6 separate regions of the Homo sapiens genome follow, and all the other regions are reported to be linked to region 1. Evidence: microRNA targets listed by miRTarBase, many of them from high-throughput screens and not tested one by one. Region 1 holds a microRNA gene; each other region holds the end of a gene's coding sequence. Distances are from middle to middle.
The links. The annotated mature microRNA hsa-miR-548e-5p reads CAAAAGCAAUCGCGGUUUUUGC and lies in region 1 at 3,597-3,618, opposite strand. An mRNA with a match to its seed (bases 2 to 7 or 8) in the 3' UTR can be bound and repressed. Matches are read on the target gene's strand: a 7mer-m8 pairs with bases 2 to 8, a 7mer-A1 pairs with bases 2 to 7 and ends in A, and an 8mer does both.

Region 1 (5,000 bases):
ATCTCATTTTGAGAAGAAATACAAAGTAAAGTATTTTTTCCTACTTCGGACTGTTTCTTCCCTGGATTACATAAAACTACCAGAGGTACCAGAAGGCTTTAAAAAACATCAGGTTCATACTTTAAAACAAAATAACTGTTGGAATAAAGCTTAATATTTTCTTCTGTTCATAGCTAATTTCTGAATGAGAAAATATTCATATAAAATAATACTTTTTTTATTCAACAAGGCAGACTAACAGTTAAATCAGAGAAACTATAAATATGTATTTAAGCACTCTCTTACTTAACTGCAACTTGGTAATCCCCAACCCATTTCCTTCTGTCTCTTCCTCACATCCTATGAGTTGTCAGCGATACTAGCTTCTCAGCCTGGAAGTAAATGGCAGTAATTATCACAGGGGAGTGATAGTTACTCCAGGAATGTTCATGTTAAATAAAGAAAAAAGTAAAAAACATTCTGGTCTACTTATAAGAAAAAAGAAAAAAAGGAAAAGGCAAGTAAATACAGTGATTTCTGGGAAGTGATTTTAAGACAATACAAGATTTGATTTTCAGTTACAAGTTTAGGGCAAGATTCTTTAGTCCAAGGAAAAGAGAGTGGGCAGCTGCTTCCAGACTAGCATCAACTCTGCAGAACAGGTGTTGGGCTTTCTGTTTGTTTTTCATTTTAAGTTATACTTTCTCAGAACTAGAGTAGGATTTAAAAAAGGAGAAGTATCAGGAGAACCATAATTCAATTAAGTTTCCACTACTTAGGGTAAATTCTTCATCTTCAATAAATGAGAGTGAAAATCTCAAAGGTCAATTAAAACTGTTGAAATTTTTAACAGACCAAGACCCAAACGTCAAAGTTTCCCACCAAACCTCAATCTTCTGCTACATCATCAAAATACTAGGACTGGAAAGGATGGAGAAAGATAAAGTAATTATTTTAATAAACATGGTAATCGATAAATGACTACAATATCATAAAAAGTTTCAATAAATATTACTAATTTACTTTGCCATTTACTCAGAGTAACAGCTGTACTATACTTGGTGACAACCATCAAAGCATATAAAAGTAAATGCAATGTTATTTAAAATTTTCTTGTTGTTAATGTTTCAGTTCTCATTGATTTCCAATTTGTAATACTGTAATCTGGCCCTATAGAATAAGCTAGAGGTGAGGCATATGTGTTATTCTAGGATAACATCTAAACTACAAGAGATTAATAATAAAATCAAATGTTTTCATATTAGTAAACACACTTAAAACACAGAAGAATTACCTCCAATAGGACACTAATCCTACTTACTAGAAGACTGTATCATATATCACCACCTATGCTTTCTCTGTTTACCAGGATTATTCATTTCAGTACTTTAATCGCATGCCCCTTTGACTGTTATTTAACAAGTTTGAGATACAGACACATATATAAAAATATTAAATAATAAAATATTGTTAGACTATTTGAGACAGAGAAGAAGGCCGAATGAAAATCATGCTATATATATCTATCTGATCAGTTGAAGGAGCAGGCAAAGTTACACAGATATTTAGGAGAAAAGAGTTCTAAACAGAGAGATGGGAAGCACAAAGATCTCAAGGCTAGAATTTACCTGATATGTTCAAGAAACAATAAAATGTCTAGCATGTTTAATATCCTAAGATATACATAGTGACTAAACATCAATGAGAGGGATAAGAAAATCACTTGATAACATTTCAAGTATCTTAAATTTTGGTTCTCCTGTCTGATTTGCAGTAGAGTAAAGCAACATTTTGTTGTGTTTTTTTTTGTTTTTTGTTTTTGTTTTTTTTGAGCAGTAGCAAGATTTATTGCAAAGAGCGAAAGAACAAAGCTTCCACAGTGTGGAAGGGGACCCGAGTGGGTTGCCAATGCTGGCTCCGGCAGCCTGCTTTTATTCTCTTATCTGGCCCCACCCACGTCCTGCTGATTGGTAGAGCCGAGTGGCCTGTTTTGTCAGGGCGCTGATTGGTGCGTTTACAATCCCTGAGCTAGATACAAAGGTTCTCCACGTCCCCATCAGATTAGTTAGATACAGAGTTTCGACACACAGGTTCTCCAAGGCCCCACCAGAGCAGCTAGATACAGAGTGTTGATTGGTGCACTCACAAACCTTGAGCTAAACACAGGGTGCTGATTGGTGTATTTACAATCCCTGAGCTAGACATAAAGGTTCTCCACGTCCCCACCAGAGCACCTAGATACAGAGTGTCCATTGGTGCACTCACAAACCTTGAGCTAAACACAGGGTGCTGATTGGTGTATTTACAATCCCTGAGCTAGACATAAAGACTCTCCACGTCCCCACCAGACTCAGGAGCCCAGCTGGCTTCACCTAGTGGATCCCGCACCAGGGCTGCAGGTGGAGCTGCCTGCCAGTCCCGCGCCATGCGCTCGCCTTCCTCAGCCCTTGAACATTTTGTTTTTCTAAGACTAAGAATTTGGATCTTATAAAGTCATTTTTTGAAAGTGCTTTTATGTGACATTCCACTGAAAGTGATTATGATGAGATTATGCATTATTCTTTCTTTTCTTCTTTACCATTCCAATTAGTTTGTTGTTCATACTAACCAAACTTACAGATACATATTTTAATGTAAAAACATACAACACAAACTAAATATGTCACTGTGTGACATATTTACTATACTGAACACTATACTGAATATACACTGAATATATATGGCAAACAGAAAGCATATATACCCTGAATATATACTGAATATACTGAAGAACACTGTACTGAAATAAAACTTAAACCTATATGTTGAATTGGCCCAGAGTATACTAGGAAAATATGATCCTGAAAAATAAACACTGATAAATAAAATATAGTTCTTAAAATTTCAGAAATCTAGAAATAATACTTTGGCTGGCCAAGCAAAATGACTAAGTCACTTATCATGGGGAAAAAAGAAAATGGACTGGCCTCTTATTTTTGTACATTCAATTCCAGAAGAAGGTAGAACTACCTGTTAACAAGTTCTACTGAGATCCTCAAGGAAAGGCAGTTTGATCCAATTATTTTGTATCTATCTAAATTGTTCTTAAATTATAAAAGCTACACACATGCAAGAACTATAGGAGAATACTGCTCCCATGAACCATTTTTGAGCAAATGACTACCAACCAGATTGACTTCAGCCAACCAAGAAATGACTGAGGCAACTATGGCAACAGGACTGCTGATAAACATTAAGACTAAAACAAAAATGGGAATTAGTACAACAAGGTATGTTACCTATGCTGACAATGCAGTTAACAAAAATAAGAAGAAAAAGAGACTCCTCCAGAAACGGCAGAAAGTAGAATAAACTCATTGATTGCCTCATCTGTACCATGATTCATATTTATGGATCACTCCACCCAACAAAAGTAGAATACACATTAAACTGCACATGGAATACTTTTACCATGATGAAAGAATTCAAGTCCTATCAGGAATGTTCTTGACCACAATGGAGGTAAATTAGAAGTCAATAATATATCATGGAAAATTGTCAAGCTTTTGGGAACAAAATAACATTCTTCTATCAGGTTGGTGCAAAAGTAGTCTCAGTTTTTGCCTTTAAAAGTAATAGCAAAAACCGCGATTGCTTTTGTACCAACCTAATAAAGCCATAGATCACAGAAGAAACAAAAGGGTAAATTAGAAAAAACTTTTAAAAGGAAAATACAACATATCAGAATTTGTGGGATGCTGCTGAAGCAGTACTTAAGGGGAAATTTACAGTGCTAACTGTCTTTATGAGAATAATAGAAAGGTCTCAAATTAATGACCTCAAGCTGCCACCATAAGAAACTAGAAAAAGAACAAATAAAACTCAAAGTAAGCTGGTGAAATAAAGTTCAAAATGGAAATCAATGAAATAAAAACCAGAGAAACAATAGGGAAAATCAATAAAACTAAGAGAGGATCAACACAATTGATATACTTCTAACCAGAATGATTAAGAAAAAGAGAAAACATACAAATTCTTGATATCAGGAATTAGAGAGGTGGCATTACTATAGATTCTACAGATATTAAAATAATAAGAATGTTATGAACAACTTAATGCTTTTAAATGTGATAATTGAAATAAAACAAATATATTCCTTGAAAGACCCATATGACCAAGTTTGCTGAAGAAGAAAGTGATAACCTGAATAGCCCTATATTTATTAAAGTAATTGAAATTGCTTTAAAACAAATTCCCATAAAGAAAAGTCCTGTCCTGGATGGCTTCACTGGTGAATTTTATCAAATATTAAAGGAAGAAATAATGCAATTTCATACAAACTATTCCAAAAATTGAACATACGTAGCCAGCATTACCCTGAAACCAAAAACCAGGTAAAGATAGGTTGTATAACATTACATGTGAATTTATTATTTATTCAAAACAAATACATCTAATATTTAAAACTACCACCAGAATGTAACTTTTTAATTTATTTCTTCTTGGTAAGCAATTTTGGTCTTATTATCCGGGTTTTTATCAAGTTCAGGGAAACATTATAAAATTATATTTTATAACTATCACCACTATTTGGCCTTCTGGAACGTCTAGTCCTATCTGCCATGACTTTTTAACTTTTCACTTCTTTTGTATACATTTCTTTTTGATCTAGATTCTAGGGGACTTTTAATTTATCCTAGAGATCATCACTTTGGTCTCTGGCTGTGTTCATTTGGTTATATGGAATTTTCCATTAAATTTGATTTGGCAAACATATCTCTAAGAATTGTATTTTATTCTTTGTTCCCTTTTTGTATCAGCCTCATCATGTTTTAAACATGCAGTTTAAATATCCTATGTTTTTTTTCTCCTAAGGTCACATCTCCTTGTTCATCTTGGCCATTTCAATAGATTTTAAAGAGAAAAAAAAGCATGAAATAATTGTGCTTGGTCCTTATTATCTTGAACCAGAAATCTGATTCTCTTATTTTATACAGGACATTTAGTAGAATATTTATTTTGGATATTAATAGAATAATTCA
Region 2 (5,092 bases), not on the chromosome of region 1:
CATCAGCTAGATGAAGAAGAGAGGATGAGAATGGCAGAAGGAGGAGTCACCAGTGAAGAGTATCTTGCATTTTTACAGCAGCCTTCAGAAAACATGGATGATACCGGTTTCTTCTCCATTCAGGTAATAAGCAATGCCTTGAAGTTCTGGGGTTTAGAGATCATCCATTTCAATAATCCTGAATATCAGAAGCTCGGCATTGATCCTATAAATGAAAGATCTTTTATATGTAATTATAAACAACACTGGTTTACTATTAGAAAATTTGGAAAACACTGGTTTAACTTGAATTCTCTCTTGGCGGGTCCAGAATTAATATCAGATACATGCCTTGCAAATTTCTTGGCTCGATTACAACAACAAGCATATTCTGTATTTGTTGTCAAGGGTGATCTGCCAGACTGTGAAGCTGACCAACTCCTGCAGATCATCAGTGTCGAAGAGATGGATACACCAAAACTTAATGGAAAAAAATTAGTAAAACAAAAAGAGCATAGAGTCTATAAAACAGTCCTTGAAAAAGTATCAGAAGAAAGTGATGAGTCTGGAACATCAGACCAAGATGAGGAGGATTTTCAGAGGGCCCTTGAACTAAGCCGCCAAGAAACCAATAGAGAAGATGAACATCTCCGCAGTACTATTGAGTTAAGCATGCAAGGTAGTTCCGGAAACACATCGCAAGATCTTCCAAAGACATCATGTGTAACTCCTGCTTCAGAACAGCCGAAGAAAATAAAAGAAGACTATTTTGAAAAGCATCAGCAGGAACAGAAGCAGCAGCAACAACAGTCAGATCTGCCGGGCCACAGTTCATACCTACACGAAAGGCCAACAACAAGTTCGAGAGCAATTGAGAGTGATCTCAGTGATGACATCAGTGAAGGCACAGTACAGGCCGCTGTCGACACCATTTTAGAAATTATGAGAAAGAATTTGAAAATCAAAGGGGAAAAATAATGCCTTTAAAAATAATTTAGATAGTCATACTTTCCAACATTATCCTGTGTGATTATACTGTAGGATCCATTTTGGTCATCTGTCAAAGAGATGAGGAAATAAGGCTTTTAGACAGTTTGCAAACAAAATGACGAGAGAGATGTGGGACTAAATAATGATCGTTCAACTACTAGCCAAGGAGACATTCAGCAATTAATTAAATTTAAATTAGCTTTCAAAATGTTCCTTTGATTTTTGAGCCTGCAATATCTAATGTGTCTAAAATTGGGTCATTTTTCATGGATCTTTTTGTATACCAACGAATTAGCTCTTGCCATAGAACTTTTTCCATATAGTCTCTTCTATTGTAGATAATGTGGCTCATTTTGGTTGCTTTTATTTCTCATGAAACAATTTAACCTTTCAGGGAAGTGTCTCTTGTCTGTGTTGATCATAGTAACGGTTTTAGAAGGATAAACAGTTCTCCCTCCAACTATGTACTGTGCGCTTAAGTATATTCTTATGTTATTTCCTCTGATCACAATTTCTGCTACCTGGTCCTTAATTATTTTCCACAAGTCTTTCGAAATATGGTAATATTTTCTGAGGTTTTGTTTTTTACGCCCTCTGTGGTAAGATCATTATTTCATGACTCTGGTGCATTACTCTTTCTTTGTTTGGGGGTGGGGTGATGGGGGCAAAGACGCTCTGTCGCCCAGTCTGGACTGCAGTGGCCCAACCTCGGCTCACTGCAACATCTGCCTTCTGGGTTCAAGTGATTCTCGTGCCTCAGCCTCCCGACTAGCTGGGACTACAGGCATGTACAAGGACGCCCGGCTAAATTTTGTACTTTTAGTAGAGACAGGGTTTCACTATGTTGGCCAGGCTGGTCTCGAACTCCTGACCTAAAGTGATCTGCCCGCCTCGGCCTCCGAAAGTGTAGGGATTAAAGCGTGAGTCACTGGGCCAACCGCTGGTGCATTCTTATACTCTGAAATCAGCCCTGCACAAATATTTGAGAATGAGCGACTTTTTAAATGGGAAAAAAAAAAGGTAACATCAAGATTTCAGGATATATTATTGCTTATCTAGGTATCTAAAAAATCATATGGTCTGTAATATGTTTAAGGACCACATCATGTCTTACCTGGGTATCAAGAAATCCCATGTTTGCGCCTACTGTTAAATTCATCATCACCTATTGACTACAACCTGCAAAATCCCATGGTTAGGGACACCGTGATCACTTATTTAGAAATCCCCAAAATCTAATCATGTCTACTTGGTTAAAGCCCACATTATTTCTTTCCTCAATTCTTGCGAAATCCTATATTCATAAGAGCGGTTAAGATTGTCTTCATTATGTTGCTGGAATTTGCAAAAAAACCATGGTGACAACCATAATTAGACACACACCACCTGTTACCAAGATATGGGCACTACTCGTGGGCATTACCACGGCTTAGGCCAACATCATTCCCTACTGGGTATCTTCAAAAACTTATATTCACCAGAGCTTTAAGTGAGATACTTGTAAAATACCTTGGCACTTGGTTACAATTTGTGACACATCATCTCTCATGTGGATGCCTACAGAAGCCCAGGAGATCAACCAGATATAGAAATACCTACCAGACATGGAGACCTACAAATTAACCAAATTAAATGCCATTGCTAAGGACACATCATTTCTTTCCTGGGTGACTGAAAAACTGTTAAATACCTTGGGACTACCATTTCTAGTGACACATTATTACTTAACTGGTTATCTGCAAAATCCCGTGGTCACCACATGTTTAGACATTTTTAGAGACACCATCATATCTTCTCTGGCAGCTTGCAAAATCAGATGTGTAGAAGACACATGTGTAGAAGGACATGGGGTTTTCCACCAGCACTCCTACAAATAACCTTGATTTCCATCTTTTGGGGACACACCCACTCGACCTGGATACTTGCAGTAATCTCAGGTCGACCCTGATAGCAGAAAACCACCGTTTCTCGACTGTTCACCTGTAGACATCCTAGGGGCAGCACGGGGGCGGGGAATACAGTGATAAATACCTGACTCCCTGCAATCCCTCTACACTCACAGGTTTCAGCATACACTTTTGTTGAAACAGAAAATGGGAAAACCTGGCCAATCTGGGATTGGTAAGGACTCAATCATTTCTCAGCTGAGTACCTGTGAAAGAAATCACGGCGGGAAGACGTGTGGGGACATCTCATCAGTGAACCAGGTCCCTGGGACAGTCCCATGGTGCATGCTGTGGTTTATGCGTGCATCAGCAATACCTCAGCCAGACTCTCAAAAAAAGAAAAAAAACTATGAAAACACAGAAAAAAATGGTCATAAATCCAACAAATACATAAAGCCAGAGCTCTTAGCTGGACACTTATAAAATACTTTGGTTACGGTAGTGGCAGTTACTTACAATTTATGACATATCATCTCTCATGCGGATGCCTACAGAAGCCCATGAGATCTATCAGATTTAGAAAAACCTACCATACATGGAGACCTACAAATTACCCAGATTAAATGCCATTGCTAGGGACATACCATTTCTTTCCTGGGTAACTGCTGAATACCTTGGTACTACAATTTCTAGGAACACATTATTCCTTAATTGGATATCTGCAAAATCCCACGGTCACCACATTTTTAGAGACACAATCATCTCTTACCTGGTGATTTGCAAAATTCCTTGTTCAGTATCACGGTTAGGATCTCTGTGATCTCTTAATTACTGGCTTACAAAATTTCATCATAACTTTCATGGTTAAGGGGACCACCATCTTTTTACTAGACCCCTGACAATCTCATGATCTCATGGTTATTTTGTGATTAGGTTCGCCATCATATCTGGAATACCACAAAATGTCATATTCACTAACATGGGAAGCGGCATCATCAGCTCCTTCATGCCTACCTGAGCAAACTCAATTTTGGTAGTCAAGTTAGGGTCACCATCCTCACTTATCTCGATATCTAGAAAATATCATGGTCACCCCCATGGTGAAGTTTATCATCATTTCTTAACTCTGTAACTTCAGTATTCTATGTTCACTTCCTAAGCAGAAACATTCATTTGTTACCTGGATATTTTAAAAATTTCAGACATTACCATGGAGATGGTCATTGTCATCTTTTCATTCTATAGCTAAAAAATCCCATGGGCACTACCATGGTCAGGGACGGGCCCATCATCTGTTTTTGCATTCCTTCAAAATACCATGGTCACTACAATGATGAGAGCCATGATCATCTCGTACCTGAATCACTACCAAATCCGAGAGTCCATAAATCGCCTGGAGAGACCTCAATGTTGTCCTCATGCTCTGACTTCTGCCTGCCTGAACCTGAAACTGCAAGTGTGATCAATGGCTCAACAGACACAGCTTTTCCATCAGGATCCTGCAAACCGCCTTGCTCAGTATAATCACTGTGGGAGTCAAAAATGTATTTGGATGCTTGCAGGCCCTCCAGGGTCTAGGCCATTGTAGGACACACTATTTTTCCCTGGCCAGTTTCCCTGCAAATCCACCACAGTTACTCCTGTGATGCACAATGCCACATGAGTTCCCTGGGTATGTGACAATCAATCAGCCCTCACAGACCACATACATCATACATTCTTTCCAGGGTAGAAATCAATAGGATCACATGGCGAGGAGAACGGAGAGCCGCTACCCTTTCTTACCAAAATACCTGTTAACCCATCACATGATAAACCCTTCAGGCAAAGGAACCTTGCTTACCTAGGTATGTGGAGATCGCCTGGTGTGTGGTGAGTTTACCATGAACACCATCACTTACCCAGATAGCAGACGTGTTCCCTGATCCTGACTCCTGTTTATCGGGATTTCCTTGTGGGACCCTGGAAAACCTACACTGAGATATATGCCTCAGAAACACACAAAGTGTTCTAACAGGACACATGCAAATCACAATGCTCGCATCCATCGTTGAAGGACTCTTACTTGGATGCTGGTGGGACCCCCTAAGCTCAGGGCTGCAGGCCCAGAAAACAGCATTTCTCTCTACAAGACACCTGCAAAATGTCCAGCGTAATCGCTGTGGCTGGGAACCCCAAGATCATTACCTGGTATTTGCAGTCCCACTGTGCTCACTGGGTTAGACATTGTCTCTGAA
Region 3 (5,092 bases), not on the chromosome of region 1:
CTTGGGTAGAGACGGAGCGAGGAGCACAGGCAGGATGCTGCGCCTTCCAGGAAAGGTCAGTAAGATGTCCCCACTGGCAATGTGATTCTGGGACCATCGAGAATGGGTTATTTGCTTTGCTGCGTGCAAACTCCTCTCATCGCTGCAATCTTTTAGGGAAGCTGCTCACACAAAGGCCTTCTTGCAGAATCAAGGAGAAGGTACCCATTTCCTCTGCCACTCTTCTCTGCCCCCAGCCTTCTTCCCTTTCCTCTCAGGAGACTCCACGTTCCTCGAGGGCTTTGCCTTGCTGTTCCCTCTGCCTTGACCACTCTTGCTCCAGATCCTAGCCGTCACTTCCTCTCCTCGTTCAGGTCCCCGCTCTGATGTCATCTCCTCTGTGAGGCCTTGCCTGACTGCAAACTACACACCAACACTCCCTCTCCCCTTGTCTGCTTTGCTTATTTTCCTAGCACTTATCTCTTTCTAATATGTTAGGTATTTTCCTTACGTATTGTCTATTCTTTGCTAGAGTGTAAGCTCCATGAGAGCAGGGATTTGGGTCTTTTTGTTGTTCCTGCTATATCCCAAGAGCCTCACTGAGATCCTGGCACATTGCAAGCATTCCTTCAATTCATACTGGTTGAATGGGCCGGGCGCGGTGGCTCATGCCTGGAATCCCAGCACTTTGGGAGGCCAAGGCAGGCGGATCATGAGGTCAGGAGTTCGAGACCAGCCTGTCCAATATGGTGAAACTCCGTCTCTACTAAAAATACAAAAATTAGCTGGGCGTGGTGGCACGCACCTGTAGTCACAGCTACTCAGGAGGCTGAGGCAGAATTGCTTGAACCTAGGAGGCAGAGGTTGCAGTGAGCCGAGATCGCGCCACTGCACTCCAGCCTGGGCGATGCAGTGAGACTCGTCTCAAAACACACAAACAAACAAACAAAAACCTGTTGCCCAGGCTGGAGTACAGTGGTTCCATCTCAGCTCACTGCCACCTCCACCTCCCGGGTTCAAGCAATTCTCCTGCCTCAGGAGGCCAGGTTGGTCTCAAACTCCTGACCTCAAATGATCCACCCACCTCGGCCTCCCAAAGCGCCGGGTTGAATGAAGGAAGGATGAATGGAGAACTGGCGGAAGCTCTTGTCTAGAGCCAGCATTAGCTTTTCCCATAATTGGCAGATATTTCCTGGAGGTCACTGGACTTCCCTCAGGATGTGAGCTGAGGGCACAAACCAGTCCTGGTTACCTCTCAAAAGGTCAGAGTAGGCTGGGCACGGTGGCTCACGCCTGTCATCCCACCACTTTGGAGTGACCACTTTGAGATCGTGCCATTGCACTCCAGCCTGGGCGACAGACTCTGTCACAAAAAAACAAACAAACAAACAAAAAAAGGCGGACGTCTGGGTAATGTCTGTGATGTCATTCTCGCGTGCATTCTGGTTTGCTAGAGAAAGGAATGTCGACACAGTTATAAAGCATGTAATTGCACTTAATACCTATCTTATCTATCAGCTTCTTGGAGGCATCGTTACTGCTGATAAAGTGGACGAATAATTGTGGTTTCATTTTTCCTCGGGAAAATTAATCATGGAGAGAGGTGTCAAAATGTAGGTGTGCGTACAGGATCGTGTCAAGCCCAAAACACCACGTTGCGTGGTATCTCCTTGTTTGAGAATCTCTGCCCCAGGTTTCAAATCTAAGCTCCTCAGGCAGCTGGCCTGACCCCGGGCCAAACCTGTTCTTGCCTCTAAGCTCCACATGCACCGTTCCCTCCACCCACAGCGCGCCGCCCTCTTGGAAAAACTCACAGCCATCTGCTGACGACGAGCTCCGTGGTTGCAGCTTGAAGCACTTTCTTTTTTTTTTTTGCTCTGTCGCCCAGGCTGGAGGGCAGTGGCATAATCTCGGCTCACTGTAACCTTCGCCTCCGGGGTTCAAGGGATTCTCCTGCCTCAGCCTTCCGAGTAGCTGGGATTACAGGCACACGCCACCCTGCCTGGCTAATTTTTGTATTTTTAGTAGAGATGGGGTTTCACCGTGTTGGCCAGGCTGGTCTTGAACTCCTGACCTCAGGTGATCCACCTGCCTCAGCCTCCCAAAGTGCTGGGACTACAGGCGTGAGCCACCGCGCCCGGCCCACTCATTCTCTTTCTTGTGGAGGCGACACTGATTTCATTTTGGCGAGTCATCTCCTCCCACTCTTGGTTCTGTGGTTTCCGGTGTGGGTTCCGGTGTGCCCCTGGTAGCTCTGTCTCCAGGGGCAGGCACTCGATCCAGGCCTGACCAATCAGAATCTATTCCTCTCCCTGGCTACAGTGATTGGGTCAGGGTGGATGCCTCATTCAAGGTGCTGCACTGAGAATCCGCTCTGAGACTTCCACATTTTGGGAAAGAGGCACTTCCTCTTTCTGCCTCCAATGCTGAACTGACAGAATGAAAGCCTGGAGCTGTGGGTGGCTGTTGCTGCCACCCCACCTCCAGGTGAGAATCTGCTTGGGAAAGAAGCCACTGTAGAGGAAGGTTCAGCCAGGCGATGGTTCCAGACACATTCCTGACAGTGTGTGAGCACCTGGAAGTAGCCTTACTCTGGGACTAAGGTGCTAATGCTTATAAATATCCTTTTTTTGGCCCAAGCCAGTTTGGACTGGGTTTGTCACTTGCAACAGAATTTGAACGAGAGGTGTCCGGGCACGGTGGCTCATGCCTGTCACCCCAGCACTTTGGGAGGCCGAGGTGGGAGGCATCACCCAAGGTCAGGAGTTCGAGACCAGCCTGGCCAACACGGTGAAACCCAATCTCTACTAAAAATACAAAAATTAGCCAGGCGTGGTGGCGCATGATGTAGTCCCAGCTACTCAGGAGGTTGAGGCAGGAGAATCACTTGAACCTGGGAGGTGGAGGTCGCAGTGAGCCAAGATCACACCACTACACTCCAGCCTGGGTGACAAGAACGAGACTGTCTCGAGAAAAACCTGCAACACGAGGCCCTTGGTTGCCTTCCGGGGCCCTCTTCGTTTCCTAATATTCATAAGGAGACCACATTGGCAAACACGTATTGCTTTATTTAGTGTTTCTCTGGATTGCAGAAGTGTCAGCAGTGGGCTGAGACCCCCAGAAGGGCATAGAGGCAGCTGGGCAGCCCCCAGGCCCTTGAGGGTAGGAGCAGGGAGAAGCAGCAGAAGGAGGTGATGCCCCTGCCGCTCCTCCCAAGGCCAGCCCCGTCCCCACGCTCCCATGCCAGGGAGGGGTCAGGGGCCAGAAAAGGCCCTACATCCTTGAGTGGGGCCCGAGTGTGCGGGCAAGCTGTCTGTCATCCCAAGGCCTGGACTCTGGCAGAGGCGCTTTTCCCACCTGGTGGCTCCCAGGGCCGATTGCTGGTCAAGGAGCCAGATATACTCTTAAGACATGATGTGGGTTTTATGGGGCTCCCTGGCTCTGGGAGTGGCAGTGAGGCACGCTGAGGAAGGGCTGCCATCTTGGTTTTGTGGCAACCTGCCGTATGACCGTGGGCAAGTGCCTTCTCCTGTTTGGGCATCTGTCTTCTGCTCTGTAACATCAAGGGGCTGGGCTGGATGATCTCTCAGCGTCTTCCAACCTCTATGGTCTAAGACGGCCTTCCCCACTCCAGCACTGCCTCAAACTGGGATGATGAGGACAGTAAAAGGGCGTTCTTTTTTTTTTTTTTTAAGACGGAGTCTCGCTCTGTTGCCCAGGCTGGAGTGCAGTGGTGTACTCTTGGCTCACTGCAACCTCCACTTCCCGGGTTCAAGTGATTCTCCTGCCTCAGCCTCCCGAGTAGCTGGGATTAGAGGCGTGCACCACCATGCCCGGCTAATTTTGTATTTTTACTAGAGGCGGAGTTTCTCCATGTAGGTCAGGTTGGTCTCGAAATCCTGACCTCAGGTTATCTGCCCGTCTCCGCCTCCCAAAGTGCTGGGGTTACAGGCGTGAGCCACCATGCCCAGCCTAAAAGGACATTCTTAAGGCAGAAAGAAGGGGGCAGGCAAGGGTGGTCTCAGCCCCCAGATGGAAGTCAGAGTGGGCTGCAAAAGATGCAGATGGGCAGGCAGGGAGACAGGTAAACAGACAGAAAGACAAGGTGCCAAGGGAATCAGGAGGAGAGGTGTCCTGGCCAGGGAAGAGGGCACCAGAGCCCAGCCCACACAACCTCTCGGCTACATTCCTTGCCCTGCTGGAGTCAGGGAAAACACATCCACTGTGTCCTTGGGTGGGAAATGGCTTTTTTTAAAAAATAGTTTCCTATAAAGCATCAAAAAAACCTCAGAGAAAACCTCAGCAAAAGTTCCCTTCTCTCAAATATTTGGCATCGGCAGTAGGGCTGGCATGGCTCGCTCTGGCCCTGGCTTTCCTATTGCTGTGGCCCGGCCTGGCCCACTCCTGGGGTAGCTCCTGGCCCCTGCTGCTCCCTCAAGAGAGGGATGGGCAGGAGGTGGGAGATTGCAGGTGGGCTTCGGGGTGTCCCTGGGTCCCTGTCTGGAAGTTCGAGTCTTTGGTAACTGGGAAGGGGAGGAGGAGAAAAGCAAAGCATTGGGCGTTGGGAGGGTCCAGTGGGCGCCTTTATCACCGAGAATTCAGCCGTGGGGCGACCTGTGGGGGCGGAGAGAGACGGCCAAGTGGTGAGGGGAGCAGACGGGGGCCCCGGTACTCAGACTTTTCTTTTCGTCCTTGTTTTTTCCTTTTTATGGAGAATGGGGTCTCGCTATATTGTCCAGGCTGGTCTTGGACTCCTGGGCTCAAGCTGTCCTCCCACCTCTGCTTCCCTAAGAGTTGGGATTACAGGCGTGAGCCGCCGCACCCAGCCCCAGCGCTCAGATTCATGGGTTCGATGCAGGCAGGAGTGGTGGGGGCCTAGTGGTCTCCATCCTGGAGACTCAGACCTGACTCCCATAGGAATGCCCACCGCCCTGGCCAGCGTGAGCCTGTGAGCCTGTCCTCCCTCCTGGCACCCCCAATCAGCCTATGTATCTTCCCTGCATTGCCGTGCTGCCTTTTTTTTTTTTTTTTTTTTTTTGAGACAGGGTCTCATTTTGTCACCCAGGCTGGAGTGCAGTGGTGAGATCTTGGGTCTCATTGCAGCCTCAACCTC
Region 4 (5,092 bases), not on the chromosome of region 1:
TCTGAAGACTTGGGTTAAAATCTTAGTTCTGATTTTTACTAGCTGCACGATGTTGAGCAAGTTCCTTAATCAGAATCTTTATTTTCTTTGTCCATTAAGGGGTAAGGGAGGATATGGGTATGAGCCCACTTACAGGGCTGGTATAAGTTAAAAAGACACATAAATATCTGCCAGTGTCCAGCACACGGTAGACTCTTGACATATGTTAATAATCCCCTTGAATGAAAGACCTATGGGGAAAAAATTCCTTTTGTAGTCCAGTTCTCAACCCAGGTGGCACATTAAAATCATGTGAGGAACTTCAAAAAACGTTGATGCCCAGTCTCCACATAATGTAATTGGTCTGGGATGAGGGTTGGGCATGGTATGATTTTTAAAAAGCTCAAGTGATTTCAACATGAAATGCAAGGTTAAAAACTGATGACCTGGCCAGGAAAGGCTAAATTTTTCACCCTCTGAAATCAAGGGATGTGTGTGTGTGTGTCAACAACACAAGCAAAACATGAAAACATGAGCTCCATGAAGAGAAAAACAACTGCAGGTCATAACAGACACTGACGAGAGCTGGCAATACACTTGGCTGACTTCTTAGATTCTATTTTTAATGTTAAGTCCACACTGGTTATGTAACAGTGGGGCTAATGGTTTTACATAATAAATCCTTTTGAATTTGTGAAACCTAGACTGCTGATTTTATAAAAATCTTGATTCTCATTTCTTTAGAAATTATTTCTATACAAATTTCTTCATATGGGAAAGCTTTTTTTTAAACAAGCTAGTTTTTTAAAGCAGTTTTTTTTTAATCCCCCATTCATTTTAAGGTTCGTTCACTTCTAAAAAAGGACTGTAAGAAAATTAACTTAGGCTAACACTGAAGATACATAACAGTTTGATAAAACTTAAGAATATACATATGAAACAGCTTATATTTTAGAATTATTTGTTTTTTGGGGATAGCAACTTTTAATTCAAATTTCCTTACTGTTGCACTTCTTAGTTACAGGTTTGCATTATCTAAGATTTAACCTTACTCCTCTGATGTTACTGAGTTGCTAATAATAACCAGTTAGCATTTCCTAGTATGTTTTTGTAAAATGTGAATAACTTACTCTTCTCTACTTCAGGAATATTTAGTTTCAGAAATCTAAACTCATTAGAAAAAACGTATGATGAAAGGATATATAAACTATCACATTTTTATGAGAAAAAATACTATATATAAATGTACAGTATTTTTGAAATAGTCATTTTAAAAGAGCTCTTTATATGGAATGTATCATGTGAAGTACACAATCATAGGAAAAGATGGACTGAGAATTAAAGACCTGGAACAAAGTACAAAGCATCAAAATGAAGATCTCCAGTAACTGGACAAACAGTGCCAATTATTTTTTTCCTAAACTGTGCTGGGCACACAATAAGCATCCAATTCCACTTATTATAAGATGATAGCTTTAAAGAGGTGTATGTGAAAAGAAGACAACTACTTTTTTAAGGATTATCATACAAAGAACAGAACTGAAGAGAAAAAAATTATAGATTTGAACTTAAGACTTAGCTTGAAAATTTTTGTTCTTTCCACATGTGCATTAATGTAATAGGCTGTTTGAACCTTTCGCATGGACCCCCCAATGCCTCTAGCATCATAATGAATTTTTATCTCTACATCCAAAGGATCTACCAACAATTTAAGGTATGGAGATAAAAGTCAGGGATCTCCAGGGATATACTGCCCTGCTTCTCTGATTATTTAGCTGGAAGAGAGGCAGTGGGAAGATGCTTGAATGGAAAATGAGCTAGAATCCTTCCTTCAATTTGATATGTTAATGCCATAAATCAGAGTTGCACAGGCACCTGCTTAGTGGATAGCTTACTGGAGCTTGTGTGACATCATATATATTTCCTTCTTTGCATATCTCTAAACAATTTTTTACTTTAATTATGTCAATAAACATCTTTGAAAGAAAGACTCAGATTTGTAGTTTTTCATTTTTGCTAGCAGTGAAGCCTAATGCTTCTTAGCAGCAATGAGCAACTTCATTTAAACTGATTACTCTGACTAAGGAAAGAAAAACAACAATAGTACTCTACTCAGTCTTCAGAGTCAAACCTCACAACAGTTGGAGCTAGTACACGGGTTAGGAATATGGGAGAAAGAAAAGACCTAATATGACAAATAAATCTGTAATTAACAGGGATCTGTTAGAATCAGAACAGTCCTGAGTATTACCTTACTAAAAAAGTTCAGATGCATAGGTTTTGAATGAAGTTTCTGATTATTCTGGTTCCAAATATGTTGAATTCAACAAATCACGTAAAAAGTTACTGTATTTTTAATGTTAAAAGGAAGTCTTCAAGTTTTTGGTACTGGTATGAGTTATCATTTGAATACTCTTCAGTGTTACTATATTTAGTCAGCTTTCCATATCCTCAGGCTCTGTATCCTTAGATTCAAACAACTTTGGATAGAAAATTTAAAAAACCAATAAATATCATAAAAAATAGTACAAATGAAAAAACAATATAACAACTACATAGCACAACGTAAGTGCTATGCAATCATATCTAATCATCTGGAGATTAAAGTATATGGGAGGATGTGCACAGGTTATATGCAAATACTGTGCTATTTTATATAAATAAGGGACTTGAGTATCTGTGGATTTTAATATTGGGGGATGGTGTTCTGGAACCAATCCACTGCAGATACCAAGGAAAGACTCTAACTAGAATTCATTTTATCATTTAAAAAAGTCAATACATATTATCTTGATACATAAAATCCTTGAGAGACCTGATATTCATAGATAAAGCTGCACAAGTATAATTGCTTTTATGAAAGTTCCTAGAAGCATCTTAGCCCAATATCAATCTATCAAGTATTAAATCACTTTACCAATTTCAATAAATGCCAAGACTGATATAATCTGGTCGTAAGTTGCTATCAAGTAAGTGGATAACTGAACACACAGGATAGCTCAGAAATTCACTATTGGGATAGGAAAACCACAGAAAAGCATGATAACTGGTTCATTCATTTATAAGGAGGAGAACCTTCATTAAATCTGCAAAGAATTTTCAGTTTTTAATCTAATCTGCCTTCCTAATCTTCCTGGTGATTGGAAACAGGTTAGGAATGGGAGGTAATGGAATAAACATGAGGATTTCTGTTTTTTAACCACTGTCATAAAAGCTTGGGAAAAAGATAAACCCCAAATCATCGAAGAACATTGTTTCCTTAAAGTGTTTTCAAAATAAATATGAGACCAATCTTCAGAACAATGCACAACTGTGGATAAGTTAAAACCTTTAGGAAGGGGGATAACTGGGATAACTCTTGAGTACTGTATAATCAAGAACCAGGAGAACTGACATGTTTCCAGTTTCCTGGCAAAAGAAAAAGTGTAGGAAGGTAGGGTTTGGCATTTTAACATTTTATCTAAAACTACGAAAATAGAAACAACAGTGCCAAACATATGACTGAAACAAACAAACAAAAAACCCAAATGTAAAACTCTAAAAATATGTGATCAATGTTTAATATTCTGAGGAATAAGTAACAAAATCAAGACAGATTTTTTACTTAGCTGGGTTAATTTCCTCTGAATTCTTCTAAGAGTTAAAAATGAACTATCACATTGATTGATTTAGAACCATCAGATTTTACTTCTGGAAAATCTATTACCTTTCAAAAAGTTATAATTTTAATGTTAGCACGAAAATTACTTCCTAACATTTCATTAAAATTTTGCAGCCAAAGATTCCTATTTTTGAATTACAGTACTGCAAGGCACATACAGAACTCACCTCCTTCAAAACCACAGAAGATATACTCCCTGAAATAGAATTTTAAAATCCTTGAACAATTAGAAATACTATAAAGTTAGCATTTTTTAGGTAAAAATGTTGCTCCTACAGGATCATGCAACTTTCTTAAAATCAATTCAGCACATATGTATAAAGAATCCTTTTTAAAAACATTTGTACTTGAAATACAGACACAGTGATGCTGAAGACACTAAACAAAAACTGAAAAGTACTATATCTTGATAAATTTTGTTATTGCCTTCTTTAGAGACTTTATAATCTCTAGTTGATTTTCAAGGACTTGAATTTAATAATGGGGTAATTACACAAGACGTAAAGGATTTTTTAAAAACAAGTATTTTTTTTTACCTCTAGCATCAATTCTTTTATAAAGAATGCTAAATAAATTACATTTTTTGTTCAGTAAAACTGAAGATAGACCATTTAAATGCTTCTACCAAATTTAACGCAGCTTAATTAGGGACCAGGTACATATTTTCTTCTGAACATTTTTGGTCAAGCATGTCTAACCATAAAAGCAAATGGAATTTTAAGAGGTAGATTTTTTTTTCCATGATGCATTTTGTTAATAAATGTGTCAAGAAAATAAAAACAAGCACTGAGTGTGTTCTCTTGAAGTATAAGGGTCTAATGAAAAATAAAAGATAGATATTTGTTATAGTCTGACATTTTAACAGTCATAGTATTAGACGTTTCGTGACCAGTGCATTTTGGACTCTCTCAGGATCAAAATACGAGTCTGCCAACTGTATTAAATCCTCCTCCACCCCCTCCACCAGTTGGTCCACAGCTTCCTGGTGGGTCGTTGTCATCAAATCCATTGGGCCGAAATGAACATGAAGCAGATGCAGCTTGGAGGGCCCGGGCTCGAGCATTCAACTCTTGTTCCTAAAATTAAAAATAACTTTTATGAAATTAAAATGCTAAATACAATGGATCGTTATATCACCTATAGAAATATTTTAAAACTACCTTAATCCTTATAAACATTCTTCAAATCTCAATAACTTTGAAACTAAAGCACCTAAGAAAAAAAAATTTCTCTAAGAAAATATTACAGTTCCTGCAACACTCTCTAAAACATACTGGAATAGATTCTTTTCTAATATATTTAACATAGAATTCAAAGATTATCACAATAGATTATCTATTCTCCAGCAATTGGGGCTATTTTGGAAGTGGGTGATTACAGTTAAATGTATGAATAAAGGAAGAAGACTGAATTTTTTTCTGGCCTTTCCATAGACTATTTCTCAATAAATAA
Region 5 (5,092 bases), not on the chromosome of region 1:
CAGTATAAGGAAGTCAGATTTCTACGGGTGAAGAAAAAATAGGTCAAATCAGATTCCTTTTCTTTATTTTTACTTGAGAACTTCACTCTTGAGTCCATGGCTTAAGCTCCGGGTCCTGCACGACAGGAGAGCATCGCTGAAGTGATTACGTGCCTGGCTACTTCCATGTCCTGGAGAGAGACTGTTTGTCAGACAGAAGTTACTTTATTCAACAGTCCCTTTATGTGGAAAGAATGCAGCTTGTCAGGCATAGCATACGTCGTACTCACTCCCCTTTTCTCTTCCAGCTCCAGGCCTGGTGGCGAGGCACTATGATACGGAGAGAAATTGGTGGTTTCAAGATGCCTAAAGACAAAGTTGATAGCAAGGATTCAAAAGGCAAAGGTAAAGGCAAGGATAAGAGGAGAGGCAAGAAGAAGTGACCAAGTTCTCTTTTGTGTTTTCTGCTGGTATTCTGGAGGTGGGAAGGACTTGGAGAGAGTTAAGAAACACCTGGTACCTCAAAGATGACTCATCTACAGGTTGTTTCCTATTGAGACTTTCCCAGGGAAGCCTGATTTCACTTTGCCTGTTAATTTCACTCTGCCTGTTAGGTGGGTTTTCAAACCCTGATTTAGGATTACACCATTGACTTAGGGCTTCCTCATACCTTGCTGGGAAGAAGTTTCTAGTAGTCCTGTGAAGATTCATTCTTCTTGCTCTTTCTCAGCAGAACAAAGGAGTTCACTGGCTTAGCTACAGTGACGCATTGAAACTTGAGTAATTCCTGTAATGTCAGATTTTGATTTTACCCAATTTGTCTGTAGTGAAAAAACTCTTATGAGCAAAAGTATTCAGTAGGAATTACAATATGATGTTATTAGCTGTCCAGCATAATATATACACAGCAAAGTTTTAATAAATGTTGGTTCCTGCCTGCCTTTTAGATTTATCGTCACTTTGGTGTTTTTATTCAGGTGAAAATGGCATGGAATACATATCCAGTTGTAAGCTGCTTCAGCAACTTTTCTAGGAAACAGGGATACAAATTATAAATACAAGCTAGAAATAGGATGTTAGGATATACAACTTTACAAACTATAAAGATGGGGACACAGGTTCTCTGGAAGGCTAGTTTGGAGATATTTTTGACAAGTGAAACACTAGAGCCACCAATCCCCACTTTATGGAGTGTTAAGATGAAAAGAAATCAGGTGTGTGAAAATATCTAACTTGTGCCTGGCAAATAGGAAAGCTGTCACTCTCCCTCTTCTCCTAGAAAAAAAATGCACCCACCAGATCATGCTTGCCTTGATGAGTCAAAACAATGCCTTGGGATGCTAAAGGTTTCCAAGAGCAAAGTTGTCCTAATGTGTCACATACATTTCATGAATTAAGCCTTCTATCTAACTCCAAATAAAGCTCAGTCTTGATATCTGTACTTCCTTAAAAAATGAATTTGATCTCAAAAGTTTGTCCCGAAGCCCCCATTTCCACTGACATTCCCTCTGGAAATGAGATGCTCTTTCCTTGATTCACCTTTGCCAAGGGAACCACACCTCAGGTATGAACACGCTCCAATCAGCTTTTATTACACGCCACTGAAGTGTTGGCTTTTATTTGAATGTCAATGTGTAAAGTGGCGTACAGGCAATTTAAAATAACATACATGATACTGACATATTTATACTTAGAACTTATGCAATATATTTACAGACAAAAATACAGGACAATGTTTTACAAAATCTTTCACTAATTACATGTTTACAACATTTTCAGAAATAAAACGAAATTTGCTGTAAACCATCTCAACTGCACTGTGTATATAGAAAGGCTTCTAAATATCCATGTTTTCATTTCTATAACCATTTAAGCGCTTAGTTTTTACGAATTCATCAAACTCATTCGCATAGTCACACATCATTAGTCACTGCTGAGCTGTAGAAAGTAAGAGAAATCGCAAACTCCTTGATTAGCTGTATTTTAAAAAGCTCTTCAGAAAAGTGATCTACTACTATGCTCTGTGTTCTAGCAGAATACAAAGGCCCCTCTTTCCATGGGTCGTTTCCAGACCTGGCTATTACAAGAGAACACTGGAGTGCTAAACACAGATTATGAGTCTGAAATACTGGGAAACTGCTGACAGAAAATCTCTGTACGTGGCAAGGGCTCTGCTGGGGGTGGCTCTCAACCCGACACTGTCAGTGATGGGAAGGGCTCTGCTAGGGGGGGCTCTCAGCCCCAGACACTGTCAGTGATGGGAAGGGCTCTGCTGGGGGGCTCTCAGCCCCAGACACTGTCAGTGATGGGAAGGGCTCTGCTGGGGGGCTCTCAGCCCCCAACACTGTCAGTGATGGGAAGGGCTCTGCTAGGGGGGGCTCTCAGCCCCAGACACTGTCAGTGATGGGAAGGGCTCTGCTAGGGGGGCTCTCAGCCCCCAACACTGTCAGTGATGGGAAGGGCTCTGCTGGGGGGCTCTCAGCCGCCAACACTGTTCAGTGATGGGAAGGGCTCTGCTGGGGGGCTCTCAGCCCCCAACACTGTCAGTGATGGGAAGGGCTCTGCTGGGGGGCTCTCAGCCGCCAACACTGTTCAGTGATGGGAAGGGCTCTGCTGGGGGAGCTCTCAGCTGCCGACACACTGTCAGTGATGGGAAGGGCTCTGCTGGGGGGCTCTCAACCCCCAACACTGTCAGTGATGGGAAGGGCTCTGCTTCAGGTCAGGGGAGCTGTGACAAGGTCATCTTCATCTTACACTGGAGTCAAGCAAAGCTAAATGTTAAACCGAATTGTGCTTTCCAATTTAAAAAAAAAAAGGTACATACAAAATACTGAATACAAAAATTCTCCCAACAAAAGCATCATGATTTGTTTTTGCATCTTGACATAAAAAAGAAATTCATACCTTCCTACCTCTGCAGAGGGTTTGAAAAAAGAGAAAAAAAATTCAAAGCATTTGATATTTTTCCTTCAATTATCAGCCAAAACTGCACATGGTTTTTCCTAACAATTCAAATACAAATCTGATTTAGTTTGATAAAAATACATTAATAAGGTTTCATAATATGTGCAAAATTTGAAATAAGTTGAAATTTCCATTTATCCCTATGGGAAAATTAGTTGCAAATGTTGCAAGTATTGCATTATGTAATGTCTTCTAGAATTATTCCTTGCATAGTATATTTTTGGTTTGGTGGGTTTTTTTTTTTTTTTTTTTTTGAGACAGAGTCTCGCTCTGTTGCCCAGGCTGGAGTGCAGTGGCACAATCTCAGCCCACTGCAACCTTCGGCTTCCAGGTTGAAGCGATTCTTGTGCCTCAGCCACCCAAGTAGCTGGGATTACAGGTGCCCACCACCACGCCCAGCTAATTTTTGTATTTTTAGTAGAGACAAGGTTTCACCATGTTGGCCAGGCTGGCTTGCGTATGTTAAAAACAATCCTGTCCTTTGCTGAATTTCATTTCTGGTGGCATATAATTTGGAGACTGTACTGAGGCTTAATGTTGACAAACACAGTTTAAAAATGCACATGGCTAAATTCTAAACAAGTTATATAAGGGTATATAAGAGTTGGTGGGTCTGTTGGGAACTGTAAATATAATGGGGTCTTACATAAAGACATTTTACTTTTGTTCTATAAGATTGGGCATTGAAGTTAGATGTTGTACAATTTATTTTTAGAGATGGGGTCTCACTCTGTTGCCCAGGCTGGAGTGCAGTGGTGCAGCCATGGCTCACTGTAGCCTCAACCTCCCAGGCTCAAGTGATCCTCCCACCCCAGCCTCCTGAGTAGCTGGGAGTACAGGCAGGTGCCACCACACCTGGTTTTTTTTTTTTTTTTTTAATTTTTGGGAGACAGGGTCTTGCTATGTTGCCCAGGCTGCTCTCAAACTCCTGGGCTCAAGTGATCCTCTTGCCTCGGCCTCCCAAAGTGCTGGGATTATAGGCATGAGCCACCATGCCCAGCCTGTTATACAATTTTAAACCTGGTCAAGTGGTAATGTTCTGATGAATTTGTTTCTCTGCAAGAACAAGGAAGAAAACATTACTTTGACCAGGTATTCAACATGATTTGATCCAAAGCTACTTTTAGATGCTACATTTACCTGATAAAAAGAGGGATAACATTATGCCCAAATGGATGCATTGTAAAGAAAATCCAGAACAGTTAACAACTACAGAAACAAAAGAGATATCTTCCGCTTACTTTATTTACTTGTTTTACAAAGGCAGTGAACACCAAAGGATATCACCAACAACTAAAAGGAGTTCAAAATGCAGGGGAAGGAAAACTAGCTGAAACTTGAGTAAAGGCTCCTGTGCGGTGTGAGCCCTTGGGCCCTTTTCCTCCACCCATCATTGAGTATATAAAGGCGCTTGTGGTGGAGCGAGATGGGGCGCGTTTTCTTTTTTTGAGATGGAATTTCGCTTTTGTTGCCCAGGCTGGGGTGCAATGGCACGATCTTGGCTCACCACAACCTCCGCCTCCTGGGTTCAAGCAATTCTCCTGCCTCAGCCTCCCGAGTAGCTGGGATTACAGGCATGCACCACCACGCCCAGCTAATTTTGTATTTTTAGTAGAGACGGGGTTTCTCCATGTTGGTCAGGCTGGTCTCAAACTCCCAACTTCAGGTGATCTGCCCGCCTCAGCCTCCCAAAGTGCTGAGATTACAGGTGTGAGCCACCACACCCAGCTAGGAAGATGCTGTAAGTGCTTAAATTCAGCCACAGAAACTGGCAGTTACCTGAAAGAAATACAAGAAACTAGGCTTTTCCGAGCTAGAAGTGTATGTGCTGTAACTGCAATGTGTCTGCAGGCCCAGATGTCTGAGGAGCAGCAGGAGGGCGGGGAGGGAGGCTCAGTGAGACCAAGTGCGCTATCAGCTTCAGAATTTGGAAACTCTGTATAGAGAGAGGGCTTGTTGTTGATAATGTCTAGATAACGGGGTTTGGAACCTGTGTATAGAGGGCTTGTTGTTTATTATAATGTCCAGATAACAGGATGACATAGAACTATCTTCTATGATGGTATGACTGCAGTTGAAGGGAGGCCTAGAATACTGACCTTAAATACAACTCTATCTGTTTCACTGTTTTACTATGCAAAATCTGGGC
Region 6 (5,092 bases), 60 Mb from region 1:
GTTTCACTCATTATAGCGCAACTTACTTTGTTTTTCTAATGTTGGCAAACACAAACATAGAGCCTGGTAGATACATTACACTTTCTATGAATATGTTCTAGTAAAATTCAGAGCATTTTCAAGATATTATTTGGGCAAACTAAAATTTCAAAATCAAATTTGACAGTTTAACAAAACCTGATTGACAATGGTTGCACGTCAGGTAGGAATATTTACTGCCTAGTTTCTTCCTGTCTTCCAATAAGTATATACAAAATCTTAAGTTATCCTATTAACATTTTCTTTTTAAAAATATTTATCCAAAGTTTCCTTGTAGTGCTATGTTAGAAACTTAGTTTTATCTTTAACAGATGTATTTACAATATATGAAAGTGTATCTACAATACATAAAAAGTGCCAAGTTTCTAGTCTAATTTTTAGATATATTTTCTTCCCCCTGGGAACTTTTATATGAATGCAAGAAGAGAATAATCATGACTTTATGTGAATATTGAGCACATAGTTCATTTTTTGTTGTAAGTTACTTTTAGGAAATCTTAGTGTTAGAGTTGTTCAATAATAATATACTTTATCAAACTTCATAGGTTAGAATGCAATGAAAATTTACCCCGAATATTAACTTGATTGCCCTTTATTCTACAAATGGCACACCTAAGAACCTCCCTGTCTATGTGGATTCTAACTGTGGCCCAGTTGTCCAAGACAGAATTATAAAACGGTCATTTAGAATATAACAAAAATTAATAAAAATGGAACATTATATTGATGCAATATTTTGCTAATCTATGCAATCAGAATAACATTTTTTCTAAAAAATACTTTTAAGTAAAATAAAAACCAATTTCCTGCACAGCTATTATCAGTATATACTTATAGTTTAATTTCTATTCCATCATGAAAAAGTTAAGAAACTGTGGTTTGGAAACAGGTTCCTTTTTGTTAGATATTTATTTTTGCTTTTTTGGAGACAGGGTCTTGCTCTGTCACCCAGGCTGGAGTGCAGCGATGTGAACATGGCTCACTGCAGCCTTGCCCTCCAGGCCTCCAGCAATCCTCCTGCCTTAGCTTCCCAAGTAGCTGGGACCACAGGCCCACGCCACCACAACTGGCCAATTAAATTAAATTTGTTTTTTTTTTTTTTGTAGAGGCGGAGTCTCTCCATGTTGCCCAGGCTGGTCTTGAACTCCTGGCCTCCAGCAATCCTCCTGCCTTGGCCTCCCAAAGTACTGGGGTTATAGGCATGGGCCACTGTGCCAGATATTTTTTGAAATCCATATTTTCTTGACATGAGGTAGCTTTTTAGCAGCATTTCGGGTGCTGTTCCCCAAACATAGTGTTGTTTGGCATGATACCAGATTGGAGGATATCCTAGTCATCTAGGAGAATTATATTTTGTTGCAGTTGAAGGTGCTGTTCTAGATATACTAATGCAGTGGGAGAGAAATAAAGCAATTTGAGAAGAGGCAGCACTTTTATAGGAAAGAAAATAGATACCCAATCCCATTGCTGATCAATTTCCTCCTACTTAAGCAACATTAGGCTGATTTTAATTATCAATAAGCTATTAATTACCAAAATTTAGAGAACTAATTCAAATTTACTGGATGTTCCTAAATTATTGTTTTGTTATTATCACCTGGTTGGGTGACAAATTTTAATTTTTTCTGTAAAGAATTAGGAAGCATTCAAATAAGAAATTACAGAAAAATTGATAGTGATGCAGAAGGTATGAAGGTATTATATAGGTGCTAATTTCTTAAGTCTAAAAATATAAACCTATGCAAAATTAGCCTTTGGTTCTACCAGCAATTTAAAAAAGCCCGTTGTCTTAATAATTTTAAACTTATGGTAGCAGGACTTGCTCTATCTACCTAACTTGGGGAAAGTAAAAATAAACATATGGCATGGTAGACACATTAACACTTTCTATGAAGGTATTTTAATGGAATTCAAAGTATTCCCTAGATATTACTAAAACAAAGTAAAATTTTAGCAAAAAAACCAAAACCACTTCTACCTACTTATACAAAACTGGCTCTAAAGAGGTAAATGGTGTGATAACTTGAGATGGTGTTCCAGTGGTAATTTTCTCAATACTTTGGTATTATTGTATGTTTAGGTGTCTGCTCTTAATATTGTAAACAAACAATTATGACTTTATCCAGAATAATGATTTTTTCTCATAAAAAGATTCATGTATTAACTAATCTTTTCATTGCGATTAAATTTAAAACTTCTCTAAATCAAACCTAATTTGCATTGACAAGACATCCAGAATACCCTTTGCTGTTTATTTGCAAAGATTTTAAGGAAAATCAGAACTTTTGCTCCTAGAATTTGGAATGCTTTTTAGACTCAGTAGAAATTTGCCTGCCCCAATGGACATTTGTTATGTCAATGTAATCACTGTCTTTGAGAATAAAAGCAGATCTGTAGGGGAGTGTAAATTTGGATCTAAGAATTGTTTTAGGACAAGATTGTTTTACTTTCTCATTTTTAGAGTTAGTTTGAAGCCTACGTAAGTTACATTTAAATTCATACTATTTATGGGATAAATATGATTTGGCTATTTGTCTTAACTTAGATGATTTTTTAATTGCATTTTTCTATTTACTAAAAGTGAAATAAAAAGGAAAAGAAATAAAGAGATAGAGTATAAATACAAGAATATAGCAATTCCCAAACCTAGGTGCACATTGAAATCACCTAGGGATCATTAAAAAATACTGATGCCAGGCACCCATCCAAGGAAATTCTAGTGTAAATTTTATGAGATATGTTATTGGCATTAGCATTTAAAAAGCTCTCCAGGAGATTCTAATGTACAGCCTACTTTGGGAACTACTGTCCTAGGAAATATTAGACGCTAAATGTAAAGTAGAAAGCACAGGGCCTTTCAGAGTTTCAGCTGTAGCCTTGGAGGCTTTGTTATCTCATTGGAGTTAGGACAACTGAAATGTTACAAGTACTTCTGATTGTGATTAAAATTTACCTGATTTTGATTAGAATCTGGCCTGCTTTTTGATCACAGAATTCCATTAAGGAGTTGACAAAATTTTCCATGTCTTTGTGTTTATGTTTTCCTTTGTGTTCTGTAAATTTTTTTAAGGGCCAAGGGATTTTAAAAAATGAAAATTCTAGTACTGTGTCTTAAACCACTAATGAGATTGATGTAGGAGTAACAGGTATTTGGTGTTGGACTTAAGATTATTTATGTTTGAACAAAGCAATCATTTACAAGTATGGCAAGAAAGTAGTGCCTTCTCTTTACCTCTGTTCCGTGTTTTGTAGCACCGTTGCCCTCCCCTCACTTCATCATCAGATATTTCTGGAGAAGAGGCCTAGGACTCTGGGGGGAATTTGGTAAATAACACCCATGCTGATTGTCTGAAACAGTTTCTAATCAGCAATGATTGCTGTAAGATTTTTCTGTGGCAGCTTCAAGACAAAAGGACTCAGGTATGGTGAAGCTGCCTGATACTTACTGAAACAAAAAGGAAGGAAAGTTAGAGGATTTCCTGGCAGATTTAAAATAAATGGGTTAGATAATGCAAAGCTAATCCCAAGTTAATATAAGCATCTCTGATTGCTAGATGGTGGGGTGGATACTGCAACAATATCAAAGAAATGAGAGCAAATCTGCACTTCTCTCTTTAAAATGACTTTTCAGTCAATTTGCTGAAAGGAAGAAGTATCATAAATGATATTCTGTATATCTGATTTACTTTTTTATGATATTAGGTAGGAGAAAAATGAGTCTGAGATGATGAAAATCAAGCAATATGAACAAGTCAAAAAATTTTAAAGTAGAAAAGGTCATTTCATGCTGGCATGATTATTGGAAAAGGTAGGAGTTCTAGGGAAAAATAGGTGTGGACTAATGAGCTGAATAAACAATGGGGCCTGGATTTGTTTTAACCACATCTACAACATATCATATCTATTTCTAGGAAGTCCCCATGGGCTGCAGGGGACAGGAAGATCCTGATCTGTGACAAATCGACTGGATGGAATTTTCAGGCTGAAGAGAGGTTGAAACCACAAAATCTTGGACAGTCTTTCATGAGCTCAGGCCTGCAATCATGCCCCACACAGTGAGCCATGGTGAATGCATTTTGAAAAGCAACCTCCTCCCTTCCCTTTTCCTCTTTGTGACTTTGTGTATCACAAAAGCAGCTGTGAGCCAGAGGTAAGACTCTGGAGTTTACTTGGCTTCCCTTGATTATTACTGACTGCCCAGGTCTGCTCCATCCCTCCCAAATCTTGCCAGCTACAAGATCTCTCTTCACCCTGGCAGGATTTGTAAACATACTCCCCAAACACTCAGGAAGACTGGAAGAACAACTTTTGGGGCAGTGGCTCTCCAGCTTTCTGTTAAACAAAAGGCTCTTTAACATTTGATTTCATTTCAGAATAACGTTCTTACTTCATGATTCTATAATTGGTATAAGCTATACAGTCTCTGGAAAGGCATTTCTTTAGGAAACATATTATTTATGATCATTGGGGACCGAGTTAGAGGTTTATTTCTTTTTTTTTTTTAATAGAGTTTTGTGTGTCTTATTCTTAAATTTAAAAAAGCATCTTCAGAAGGTGCCATATCCATCCCCTCGGGCAGTCACTGCAAAAGTTGGGTAGACCTCATAGGTTGTATATGCTGCTAAGTCTTGTCCAAGGGTTACCGCTTGCTTGAGCTGGGCTGCAGACACGGGTGCAGTTGCATTAGGGACAGCATATCCTGGAGGAAGAGGCAGAGAAAACTTGATGAAAGGAATTCACATTTGCTCCCTTTTGGCTTATTTGTCTTCTTTTAGAAATACGAACATTTAACATATTGCTTAAAGCTAAAAGTTAATATATATGTTTTAAAAAGTGTCCTTAAGGACACAATATGTGGACTCAGTGATTTTCAATGATATTTAAACAGTCCTAGGACAATGTTCCCTAAAGTGGGGTCAACCACCTGTGTCAGAATCACTTTATACTTAAGAGAATTAAAGATGCTTGGGATAGGGTCCAAGAAAGAGAAACTTAACAGGATACTGAGTTGATTAAAGCTTGTGATTTTTAGCGTTTTGAGGGTCTCCAAATT

Region 2: miRTarBase lists ATXN3L as a target of hsa-miR-548e-5p. Seed matches in the 3' UTR shown: 7mer-A1 at 1,061-1,067.
Region 3: miRTarBase lists MYO1C as a target of hsa-miR-548e-5p. Seed matches in the 3' UTR shown: 7mer-m8 at 4,522-4,528.
Region 4: the mRNA of USP38 is a reported target of hsa-miR-548e-5p. Seed matches in the 3' UTR shown: 8mer at 4,341-4,348, 7mer-A1 at 3,188-3,194 and 7mer-m8 at 3,013-3,019.
Region 5: miRTarBase lists DRC9 as a target of hsa-miR-548e-5p. The part of its 3' UTR that is shown has no 7-base or 8-base seed match.
Region 6: the mRNA of A1CF is a reported target of hsa-miR-548e-5p. Seed matches in the 3' UTR shown: 7mer-m8 at 4,577-4,583, 7mer-m8 at 4,169-4,175, 7mer-m8 at 4,119-4,125 and 8mer at 2,420-2,427.

Annotation. Positions count from the first base shown.
Region 1 is chr10:110,987,558-110,992,557 of GRCh38, reverse strand. It overlaps MIR548E (microRNA 548e), which reads right to left and starts at 3,632; the gene lies at 3,545-3,632. The region is part of intron 3 of SHOC2 (SHOC2 leucine rich repeat scaffold protein); the gene reads right to left.
Region 2 is chrX:13,314,732-13,319,823 of GRCh38, reverse strand. It overlaps ATXN3L (ataxin 3 like), which reads left to right. Exons shown (of 1, transcript NM_001135995.2): 1 at 1-1,177. The coding sequence ends at 957. GS1-600G8.3 (unknown transcript) reads right to left here. Exons shown (of 17, transcript NR_046087.1): 12 at 4,757-4,826; 13 at 4,213-4,299; 14 at 3,122-3,262; 15 at 988-1,036; 16 at 331-816; 17 at 1-205. Among named protein-coding and RNA genes, the nearest start is that of ATXN3L, 2.8 kb to the left of the region's middle.
Region 3 is chr17:1,461,160-1,466,251 of GRCh38, forward strand. It overlaps MYO1C (myosin IC), which reads right to left. Exons shown (of 32, transcript NM_001080779.2): 32 at 3,027-4,593. The coding sequence ends at 4,567. Among named protein-coding and RNA genes, the nearest start is that of CRK, 7.5 kb to the left of the region's middle. RefSeq lists enhancers at 1,837-1,916, 2,046-2,865.
Region 4 is chr4:143,219,919-143,225,010 of GRCh38, reverse strand. USP38 (ubiquitin specific peptidase 38) reads right to left here. Exons shown (of 10, transcript NM_032557.6): 10 at 1,137-4,716. The coding sequence ends at 4,555. Among named protein-coding and RNA genes, the nearest start is that of USP38, 38 kb to the right of the region's middle.
Region 5 is chr3:197,884,910-197,890,001 of GRCh38, reverse strand. It overlaps DRC9 (dynein regulatory complex subunit 9), which reads left to right. Exons shown (of 12, transcript NM_032263.5): 12 at 288-925. The coding sequence ends at 422. LRCH3 (leucine rich repeats and calponin homology domain containing 3) reads right to left here. Exons shown (of 21, transcript NM_001365715.1): 21 at 1,566-5,092. Among named protein-coding and RNA genes, the nearest start is that of RPL35A, 63 kb to the left of the region's middle.
Region 6 is chr10:50,802,143-50,807,234 of GRCh38, forward strand. It overlaps A1CF (APOBEC1 complementation factor), which reads right to left. Exons shown (of 13, transcript NM_014576.4): 13 at 1-4,738. The coding sequence ends at 4,587. Among named protein-coding and RNA genes, the nearest start is that of ASAH2B, 65 kb to the left of the region's middle.